Homo sapiens: one gene and its partners. The protein of the gene in region 3 purifies or fractionates together with the protein of the main gene of each other region. This does not show direct contact. Each region holds a gene or a part of one and is shown on either strand. Other genes may lie near its edges. The genes, in order: RAB18, PUS7 and ACTR6.

Region 1 (3,654 bases), on a different chromosome or scaffold from region 3:
TTTTTCTTTCCACTCAATCAGCTTACCTTGCATTTTCTCATGCAATCATTCTATTTCTTCCCCGGCCTCTTATGTCAAGTGCGTTGTGCTCTCAGCAGTAAATACTTCATTAAGTTTTCTAAACTCATGGCAAAATGTTTGATCACAATATTCATCTTCTTTATGGCAATATTTTAGGTTACTGTTCTTCATCTGTCCTTTGTTTTTCTGTTTCTTTCTTCCTTTTTTATTTCCAAACATTTGTGGCAGTCAAGCTTAATGAATTCCTTTTGATTATTCATCTCTGAAGAAGTGCTGGTTGTCCAGAACCTGATATTTGTAGGAGGTTTATGCAGAAGGCCAGAGTGCCTCCAGTTCTGGACTGACAACTTTTTCGTGATTCAGAGATTTACCTAAGAGACAGTTTAGCATTTTACTTCTCAACAGCCAATGCAGACAGGCAGTCTGGAGGTTTTTCACAATGCAGTCATCTCCTCCCCAACTGCTATAGAGATAGACACATATTACTTCCTGCAAAAATGGCTTGTTTATGTGACTCCTTGTTTGGCTTCATTTCCCCGACTTCTTAGAATTAAACCAGGTGCAGGAAAGCTCCTGCCTTGAGCTGAAGAAACCCACTTCACTTTTGTAAACAAGGGGTTTAGGTTTTATACCTCAGGGGGGCCTTGCAGTTTCATGGGTGTTTCTTGTTGTCTCTGAGCTCCACAGCCACGGCATCCTACCTACTTCTTCCCACATGCAGCCAGCCTGATGGCCACTGCTCCTGGCAACATTTCCACCTATTTTGTGGCTTGGGGTTTTTAACTGTCTTCTAGTTTAGTGGAATGCTGGGTTTGTGTGTCAGTTTTTCCCTCTCTTTGTTGTTTTTAGCTAATTGCCAAGAAAGAAGAATGCTAACTTTATAGTACCATCTGCAAATCCCAAATCCAACAATTATCTTAAAAGAGTATTTTATGCAAGACAGAAACTTAAGTGTCTCACTAAGTTACTAAAAGGTAACAATACACTTTCCTTACTACTATTTTACTGTGGGGTAAAATACCAATTTTCATAAAACACTAATTTTCACAAGGCCATTAAGTAATTGTTTTTATGTTTAAAACTCATGTGTGGGCTGGGCGTGGTGGCTCACACCTGTAATCCTAGCACTTTGGGAGGCTGAGGCGGGTGGATCACTTGAGGTCAGGAGTTCAAGACCAGCCTGGCCAATATAGTAAAACCCCATCTCTACTAAAAACATAAAAATTAGCAAGGCATGGTGGCACACACCTGCAATCCCAGCTTCTTGGGAGGCTGAGGCAGAAGAATCACTTGAACCTGGGAGGCGGAGATTGCAGTGAGCTGAGATCATGCACCACTGCACTCCGGCCTGGGCAACACAGCGAGACTCTTGTCTCCAAAAAAAAAAAAAAAATATATATATATATATATGTTATTACCTAAGGCTGAAAGTAATCTGATGCTTCAATGTAAAAGATATTTTGTTCAACATATTCAAGATCTAGGGCCTATTTGGGGAACAAATTACATATATTTTCACCAGCATACTATAATCTTAGTATTTGTCTTTGCAGAAGACAAAGCCTTTTTAGTAATAAAGACAACCCACGATTTGTCATGCCACAAGTCCCCAAATTCCATTTGGGTTTGTAATGAAGACAGTTAATATTATATGTATGTTCATTCCTTCAGTAAAATTTTAACTTTAGGCAAGTTTATTTTCCTGCCAGTTGCTACTGCTCTCCTCCTGGCTAGCCAATACCAATACGTACTCAGGCAGGTTCTGACCAAAATAAGGTTTTACTACTAAGTAATTTTTTATAGGAGTAAATAATACACCAGTATGGGCACAGTGGCTCACACCTATAATCTCAACACTTTGGGAGGCCCAAGGTGGGTGGATCACTTGAGGCCAGGAGTTCAAGACCAGACTGGCCAACATAGCAAAACCCATCTCTACTAAAAATACAAAAATTAGCCAGGTGTGGTGGTGCATGCCTGTAGTCCCAGCTACACAGGAGGCTGAGGCACCAGAATCACTTGAATGGGGAGGTGGAGGCTGCAGTGAGCCAAGGTTGTGCCACTTCACTCCAGCCTGGGCAACAGAGCAAGACTGTGTCTAAAAATAAATAAATAAAATTAAATAATAATAATTATTATTATAATACAACAAAGCCAAATTACAATGGATTTTGAATTCGTGTTTTAAATGATTCCCTTTCCTATGACACAAATAAGAGTAAATCTGTAAATCTTAATATCATGCAAAAGCTAAGTAATGCCTAATTTATTGAAAATTTAGAGGCACCATGAGTTCATATGAAGAAAAAGAAACAAACAAACATGAGCTCCTCCTGAGCTGGGCATGGTGGTACATGGCTGTAGTTCCAGCTACTTGGGAGGCTGAGGCAGGAGGATCACTTGAGCCCAGGAGTCTCAGGCCAGCCTGGGCAACACAGTGAGACACTGCCTCACAAAAAAAGAAAAAAAAAGAGCTCTTACTTACAGAATTCCAAACAAGATACATAGACAGAGTGATGGCATTTTAAAAAAATCCCCATTTGATAACCATCACAGTTGGAATGAAAAGATCATATACTGTCCTTATCACTTGTCACAGGCAAGAATTATCAATGGATGCTACAACAGGAGGGCAAAAAGTGTAAGAAGGAGGATACCTATACAGTCTCAATGTATCTCTCTACAAGAAATATATTAGTTATGAAGGGAAAAATAATAACTTCACTGACACTATGTTCTGAAAAACACTTCTGTGGAATTGCTGCCAAAACTGCATAACCTGAATCTAACCGTTAAGGACATACTGGACATACACAAATTGAGAGACATTCTACAAAATAATTATTTACTCTTCAAAAATGTCAAGGCCCTGAAAAGGCAAATAAAGACTGAAGAATTGCTGATTAAAAGAGGCTGAAGAGGCTCGACGCGGTGGCTCACACCTGCAATCCCAGTACTTTGGGAGGCCGAGGTGGGTAGATCACTTGAGGTCAGGAGCTCAAGACCAGCCTGGCCAACATGGTAAACCCCGTCTCTATCAAAAATACAAAAAAAAATTAGCCAGGCGCAGTGGCATGTGCCTGTAGTCCCAGCTACTTGGGTGGCTGAGGCAGGAGGATCACTTGAACCTGAAAAGTGGAGGTTGCACTGAGCTGAGTTGGTGCCACTGCACTCAGCCTGAGCGACAGAGCTAGACTCTGTCTCGAAAATAAATTAATTCATTAATTAAATGAAATAAAAGAGGCTAAAGAGAAATAACTAAAATCAGTGTATGATCCTGGACCCGAAACAATTATTTGTCTTTTGCTATATGGGACATTAATGGGACAACTGATAAAATCTGTGTATAGACAATAAAATGTATCTATGTTCATTTAAGAAATACACATTAAAGTATGCAGACGTTGAAGACATCATGTCTACAATCTACTCTCATTTTTTTAAAAAAGAATACTGTGTGTAGAGAGAGAATGATAAAGCAAATGTGACAAACATTAACATCTGGAGTAATTTAATAGGATACATAAGAATTATTTGTGCTATTTTTACAAATCTTTGAGTCTGAAATTGTTTCACAATAAAATTTTAAAAATAGACATACAATCAATGAAAACAAATAAAGCCAGTTAACAG
Region 2 (3,654 bases), on a different chromosome or scaffold from region 3:
GTCTCAAAAAAAAAAAAAAAAAAAAAAAAAAAAATCCTTTGAAAGACAAGAAATTAAATACAGAAAATGGAAGAAACTGAAACTGGAATAGAAGTAGACCACAACTGTAGTTACATAAAAGTATCCCTAATTCAAAGAAAAAAGCATTTACTCTTTGTCCTGAACAGGTGTAGTCAAAAAAAGAACGCTGGTTTATGAAATGCTGACACGATTTCACTCTCACCTTACAGCAACAAAACTACCCTCAGAGGTTTTGTACAAATGAAGGAGACAAAAATGGACCAGGGCTTACACAAGGACCGGGAGAACACACTGAAGACAAAACCTAACCAAAGACTACAATGCCTGGGCCAAATTTTGTGGCATAAGGAAGAGGAAGGAAAAGCAGGAGAAGGTCATTTGGGGTCACAGGTACAGCATGTGCAAAGGCATGGGGGCGTGGGAGCTCACAGAGTGCTGGAAGAGCAAAAGAACTCATCGCCCACTGTGGGGGTTAGACATACAAGGAGAGTCTGGGGTTACAGCTTGGGAGGGGCGGAGGCCACATGAGGCTACAAGGAGGGAGTCACAACCTGAAAACCAGACCAGCACTGAATTTGTAATTCAGAAAGATTCTGTGGCACCCCTTTGAAGAGAAACTGGGGTTAGGCTGGAAGACCAGGTAAGAGGGTACAGCTGTAATCTAGGCAAGAAATTAATATAATCTGATCTAAGGCTGAAGCAAGGGAGACAGAAAAAGGCGACTTTCAAGAACATTTAGGAAGTAGTAGCAGGGACAGGAGAAGGTGACAAATGTGGGAGGAAAGGGGAAATACTTCAGGATGACTCAAGTTTCCATCCCTGGGGAACTGAGAGGACAGTGGTGGTCCTCCTGATATGAGGGTCCCAGAAAGAAGAGCAGGTGTTGGAAGAAGATGAGCCCACCCATAGTCCTGTGGTGTTGCAGGTTCCTGGGGAGACATCCCAGTGGAGACGATCTGCGGGCACTCATCACATTGTGTCACACATGCCCTTACCAAAAACCTGCAATGCCTCCCCAATGACCATACAAGCTTCCCAGCTGGCATCACAGCTCTACCAGGAGATCCTGATGCCCTTCCAGAGGCCAGAACTCTCAGTAAGGAAGAAAGAGTGGCCAATAACGGCCATTCACACAGCTTGGCACAGGGACTTCACAGTCAGCAAAATATTCACCTCCTCTCCTTATGCAGAAAAAACATCAGGCCTCCCCCTCTCAACAATCTTGGAGACAGATCTAGGTTTTGCCATTTACTAAGTGGGTGACTTAACCTCTCGAATCTGTTTCTTTCTCTGTAAAAGTAAAATATGATGACTTGGCCAAAGGTCTGTAATAGCTCCTCTTATTCAACTGTTAGTCCTTAATAGTTATTATTGATGGGCTGGGCGCGGTGGCTCACGCCTGTAATCCCAGCACTTTGGGAGGCCAAGGCAGGTGGATCGCCAAGGCAGGCCGGATCACGAAGTCAGGAGATCGAGACCAACCTGGCTAACATGGTGAAACCCCGTCTCTACTAAAAAATACAAAAAATTAGCCGGGTGTGGTGGCAGGTGCCTGTAGTCCCAGCTACTCGGGAGGCTGAGGCAGGAGAATGGCGTGAACCCAGGAGGCGGAGCTTGCGGTGAGCCGAGATTGTGCCACTGCACTCCAGCCTGGGTGACAGAGCAAGACTCCGTCTCAAAAAAAAAAAAAAAATAGTTATTATGGATGATTTACATAGCTGAACTGTATTGTTGTTATGTCTGGAGGAGTTTAAAAAAAGAAAAAAAGCTGGCTGGGCGCGGTGGCTCACGCCTGTAATCCCAGCACTTTGGGAGGCCAAGGCAGGTGGATCGCCAAGGCAGGCCGGATCACGAAGTCAGGAGATCGAAACCAACCTGGCTAACATGGTGAAACCCCGTCTCTACTAAAAAATACAAAAAATTAGCCGGGTGTGGTGGCAGGTGCCTGTAGTCCCAGCTACTCGGGAGGCTGAGGCAGGAGAATGGCGTGAACCCAGGAGGCGGAGCTTGCGGTGAGCCGAGATTGTGCCACTGCACTCCAGCCTGGGTGACAGAGCAAGACTCCGTCTCAAAAAAAAAAAAAAATAGTTATTATGGATGATTTACATAGCTGAACTGTATTGTTGTTATGTCTGGAGGAGTTTAAAAAAAGAAAAAAAGCTGGCTGGGCACAGTGGCTCATGCCTGTAATCCCAGCACTTTGGGAGGCCAAGGCAGGTGGATCACAAGGTCAAGAGACCGAGACCATCCTGTCCAACACAGTGAAACCCCATCTCTACTAAAAATACAAACAATTAGCTGGGCGTGGTGACGGGCGCCTGTAGTCCCAGCTACTCAGGAGGCTGAGGCAGGAGAATGGCGTGAACCCGGGAGGCCGAGCTTGCAGTGAGCCGAGATCGCGCCACTGTACTCCAGCCTGGGTGACAGAGCGAGACTCCATCTCAAAAAAAAGAAAAGAAAAGAAAAGAAAAGAAAACAGAATCTAAAAGCTGTTGGAATCCCCAAAACACTTTTTAAGCCTTGAGAGAGATGTGACTATGATCTGAGTCACATATGGTTACAATTTGTTTTTCAGATTACAGATTAGCTTACTTTCATTTTTCCTGTTCCATATAATAACTAAAAATTCTCTCTCATTTTTTTTTTTTTGAGACGGAGTCTCGCTTTGTGCCCCAGGCTGGAGAGCAGTGGCGCAATCTCGGCTCACTGCAAGCTCCGCCTCCTGGGCTCACGCCATTCTCCTGCCTCAGCCTCCTCCCGAGTAGCTGGGACTACAGGCGCCCGCCACCACGCCTAGCTAATTTTTTGTATTTTTAGTTGAGACTGGGTTACACTGTGTCAGCCAGGATGGTCTCGATCTCCTGACCTCGTGATCTGCCCGCCTTGGCCTCCCAAAGTGCTGGGATTACAGGCGTGAGCCACCGCGCCTGGCCTACAATGACTAAAAATTCTTAATTAATGACCCTTGTTAGAGAGGAACTTTCCCTTTGGTGTCCTGCTTATGCTTAAACCGTATGACAGAAAACCCATAACTATTACACCTTCCCCAATGTACTCTCCCCAAAAAGAAACACTGCCTATAACCAATCAAATTGCTGTAACTATGTGAAAACCCTGTACGAAAAATGTTGTAATCCTGCTAAAAACTCCTGTCTCTGCCTATATAAAACCTAAACTTCCCTACTTCAGAACTTTGACTCCATTTTTTTAGAACTGGTGTTTCCAGGTGGGACATCCTCAAACTTTGCACTTGAATAATTTCTCTTTGTACTAGATTCTGACGTTTTTGATTATTTTAGGTTGACAACAGGCCTTTAGGTTGCCAGTCTTTTTCTTGATATTTGTGGACATTTGTCTGATCTCTTTTTCTTGATATATCTAACTGAAAAGACAAGAATAAACTAAACTCACTTTTAAATTTCAAATGAAATTACATTTTTCATTGTTTAAGTCAATGGCCCTATCATAGACAAATTAATTTTTTTTTGACACAGAGTCTTGCTGTCACCCAGGCTGGAGTGCAGTGGCACAATCTCGGCTCACTGCAACCTCCAACTCCTGAGTTCAAGCAATTCTCACGCCTCAGCCTCCTGAGTAGCTGGGCCCGACTAAGTTTTGTATTTTATTTTATTT
Region 3 (3,654 bases):
ACTAATTTTGAATAGAGATTGAATACATATTAAAGAAATGTAGAGATGTAGGCTCTTTCCAGAAGGGAAAGGGGGAATCCTAATAGAATAGAGCCACATATCCAGTAAACACCTAAATTAGGGGAGTGAAAGTAGACAGTACTAGAAACACAAGACATAGTAAATGTTTTTTATTTAGAATGTGTTCTTTGTTCCCTAGAAACTAGAATCATTGTACCATTATAGGTATATTATGAAGTTCTCTCTTGTCTCTCCTCCTTTTTTTCTTTGTATTTTAATTTTTGTTTTGTTTTTTAAGAGACGGGGGTCTCGCTATGTTTCCCAGGCTGTCTTGAACTCCCGGGCTCAAGTGATCCATCCGCCTTGACCTCCCAAAGTGCTGGGATTACAGGTGTGAGCCAGGGCACCTGGCCCTCTTTGTATTTTAAAGTGTGTGGAATAAAGCTGCCAAATTATCTTTGAAGGAACAGCCATATTAGCGTCAGTAATTATTTAGTTGTGTTTTGTGTGATTTTGGCAACAGTAAAGGCAGCCACACATTCTTCTAAATTTTGAGAATCCTGAAACTTCCAAGAACATTATTAATATATTATTAATATATTATTGCATATATAATTGCATATTACTAATTATTAGTCATGTGAGCTAGATAATATAACTTAAACTTTTAATCTTCTTTGTCTTTAAGCCAAGGGAAGAGATGGTGTTGAGTGGAAAATACAAATCTGGGGAACAAATTCTTCGTTTGGCCAATGAGAGATTTGCTGTTCCGGAAATACTCTTTAATCCTTCTGATATAGGCATTCAAGAAATGGGAATTCCAGAAGCTATTGTCTATTCAATTCAAAATCTACCTGAAGGTACATAAATAGAGTAAAATACTAAAGAATTATAATTGTTTTAAAAACATCATAAGCCCTGTGAACCCTGTTTCCTCTAAATAATTTCAGGCAAATTGGTGAGTCTGTTTTATTTGCAGAGATTTGTAGATCCCATAATGCATTTATATAATTCTTGATTCATCTTTGATTATAAGTTTTTTTTTGTGATTATAAATTCGATAGAGGAAAAATCATTATGGTCCATTTAAACTTGAAGAAATGTATCTCTCCATGAGCATTAAATTGCCATATCCATTTTAGGAAAGTTTTAATTTAACCCAGATCTGTACAGAATATAAATTTATAATGTAACAATTTAATGGTTTTCAGCTATTGGTAGACTGACTTATTCTTTCTGCTATATTTAGAGTAACATACAGGATTAATTTTAAAGAGATTGGAATATGGTGCTTCATAGTGATTTCTGGATTCTCCTGAAACATGCCTTAAGTAAATAATGTTCCAGAGTTTTAGGGTACTTTACTATCTCCCTGGTTTGCAAGAAGTAGGCATTGGAGAAAATCTAGCACAGGCCATGTGCTTTCCTCTCATTAAAAAAAAAAAAAAAAAAAGAAAAACATAATGCTGTCCATACATAATTATTTCACAGCTATTTTCATATTTCACATTTTATATAAAGTTGCAGTCATGATGTGTACAACATTTTGTACTACACTGCTTTAAGGTCATGGCAGAGTGAGACTCGAGGTCAATATAAGGAAACTCTGCCCTTGTTTTACTGAACAGAAACATTAGGTGGGACGGCCCATACCTGTTAATTCCTGATGGATTTTCCAGTGGTGTTTTGAAGGCTTTAAGTAACATTTGCTATCATGTAACTTTAATGAGTGTTCATACTTAGATCCCTTCTTTAAACATAGTTTATGAGTGTTTTTAACTATCAAAGGTAAGTATTGCACAACATACATGTTTGCCTCAATGAGATAATGTGGAGATTTGGGCTTGTAAGTTCAAATGTCATGAAAGACCTCGTTTTCATCCTTGTGGTAGCTCACAGTCTCAGCCTACAGCAAGAACCACCCCCCTTCCATTTTAGAGAAGAATAATTATAATTACCAACTGTTTTTTTTACTACAGTGTCACTCATTTATATATGGCTTACATGAGTGTATAGTAAGTAGCCAGTAGTTTACCCCCCTCACCTTAGGTTTTTCTTTTAAAGATCTATGTGGTCATTTTTCACTGTTTCATGTCTTTATTTGTATAAACTGTAACCTCATTACAAATCTTAGAATGGACCTGAAAATTTATTTGGTTTCCCACCAGTAACTGTAATCCCTAATTGCTTCTTATCTGATCCCTCATCCACATCTTTCCAGAAAAGTAAACAGATTTTCTAATGCCTTTTTTCCTTTCCTTCTCCTTTTCTTCTTTTAAAGAAATGCAGCCGCATTTTTTTAAGAACATTGTCTTGACAGGAGGAAATTCCCTTTTCCCAGGATTTAGGGATCGGGTTTACTCAGAAGTTCGATGTCTTACTCCAACAGATTATGATGTTTCTGTTGTGCTGCCTGAAAAGTAAGTGTTGTTTTATATAGAAACGAAACATGGAAGTCCACATGTAGAAAAGGTGGTCTGTTGACTTGAGTTTAAAACCTGGCTCTCCCACGGTGGCAGGTTCATTTCACCTGCTGAATATTCATTTTTCTTCTTTCAAAAATTGAAATGATAAACCTTACATTTCACTAAATTAAATGGAAGTATGTAAAGTGCCAGCCATAATGTTTCATACACAATGGGTGCTTAATTAAGTATATGGGGTGATTACTCCCATGTAGTAAATCAGCCTTGGTCCTAAGAGATTTTTATAGGCAAAGCAATCAGGTTATTGTCTATATGATTTATCTGAGATGTATTATTTATTGACAGTTTCTGTCAGGAATAGAAATTGAATAATTGAACCATTGTGATAAGTTTTATCAATTCATAAATTGTTTTAGAATTTTTTAAATTCTCCTTTAAATGACTTTTATTAATGAGGTTTTTAAAATTCAAAACTGTTTTATGTCTACCCTGTACAGTGTTATATGAGAAAAAGTGCATATCATCACTTCCACTTCAGTGGTTAAAATAAACTAAGGTAGGGCCAGGCGCAGTGGCTCTTGCCTGTAATCCCAGCACTTTGGGAGGCTGAGGCAGGCAGATCACTTGAGTTCAGGAGATTGAGACCAGCCTGGGCAACATGGTGAAGCCCCGTCTCTACAAAAAATTAGCCGGATGTGCTGGTGTGCACCTGTAGTCCCAGCTACTCAGGAGGCTGAGGTAGGAGGATCATTTGAGCCCAGGAGGTGGAGGTTGGTGTGAGCTAAGATTGCACCACTGTATGGTAGCCTAGGTGACAAAGCAAGACTCTGTCTCAAAAACAAACAAACAAACCCCCCTGGCAAAAAAAAAAAAACAAAAAAAGAAGGTAGAATTTTACAGCTCTAAGGGCTTATATATCATCCTATTCTATATTCTTATTTTGTAAATAAAGAAACAAGGGCTCATGAGTTGGCAAATGCCCTATGGTGAGTTAATAGCAATGATCAGATTAAAACCCAGTTTTCTTACCTTGAGTGAGGACTTCTTACCCAAAGTATATGTCTAAAAACTCACCCCTAGTGTTAGTGGCAGAGTTGCAAACAAGACCCCACATACCTGACTCTTAATTCTAGAGTTTTGTTTTAAAGCTAAAGTAGAATTTTCCAAAATCAGCAAGTTAATAGAAGGCCCTCATTGGTATCACTTTCTTTTATAGCTATGAGATAAA

Evidence for each region.
Region 1: the proteins of ACTR6 (region 3) and RAB18 purify together in Homo sapiens (co-immunoprecipitation; one large-scale study listed by IntAct). This does not show direct contact.
Region 2: the proteins of ACTR6 (region 3) and PUS7 fractionate together in Homo sapiens (co-fractionation; one large-scale study listed by BioGRID). This does not show direct contact.

The regions. Positions count from the first base shown.
Region 1 is NC_000010.11:27,510,793-27,514,446, reverse strand, and holds part of RAB18 (ras-related protein Rab-18), read right to left. Parts: intron 1-3,654. UniProt on the Homo sapiens protein: The small GTPases Rab are key regulators of intracellular membrane trafficking, from the formation of transport vesicles to their fusion with membranes.
Region 2 is NC_000007.14:105,512,140-105,515,793, forward strand, and holds part of PUS7 (pseudouridylate synthase 7 homolog), read right to left. Parts: intron 1-3,654. UniProt on the Homo sapiens protein: Pseudouridylate synthase that catalyzes pseudouridylation of RNAs.
Region 3 is NC_000012.12:100,217,727-100,221,380, forward strand, and holds part of ACTR6 (actin-related protein 6), read left to right. Parts: intron 1-688; coding exon 689-860; intron 861-2,281; coding exon 2,282-2,420; intron 2,421-3,654. UniProt on the Homo sapiens protein: Required for formation and/or maintenance of proper nucleolar structure and function. Plays a dual role in the regulation of ribosomal DNA (rDNA) transcription.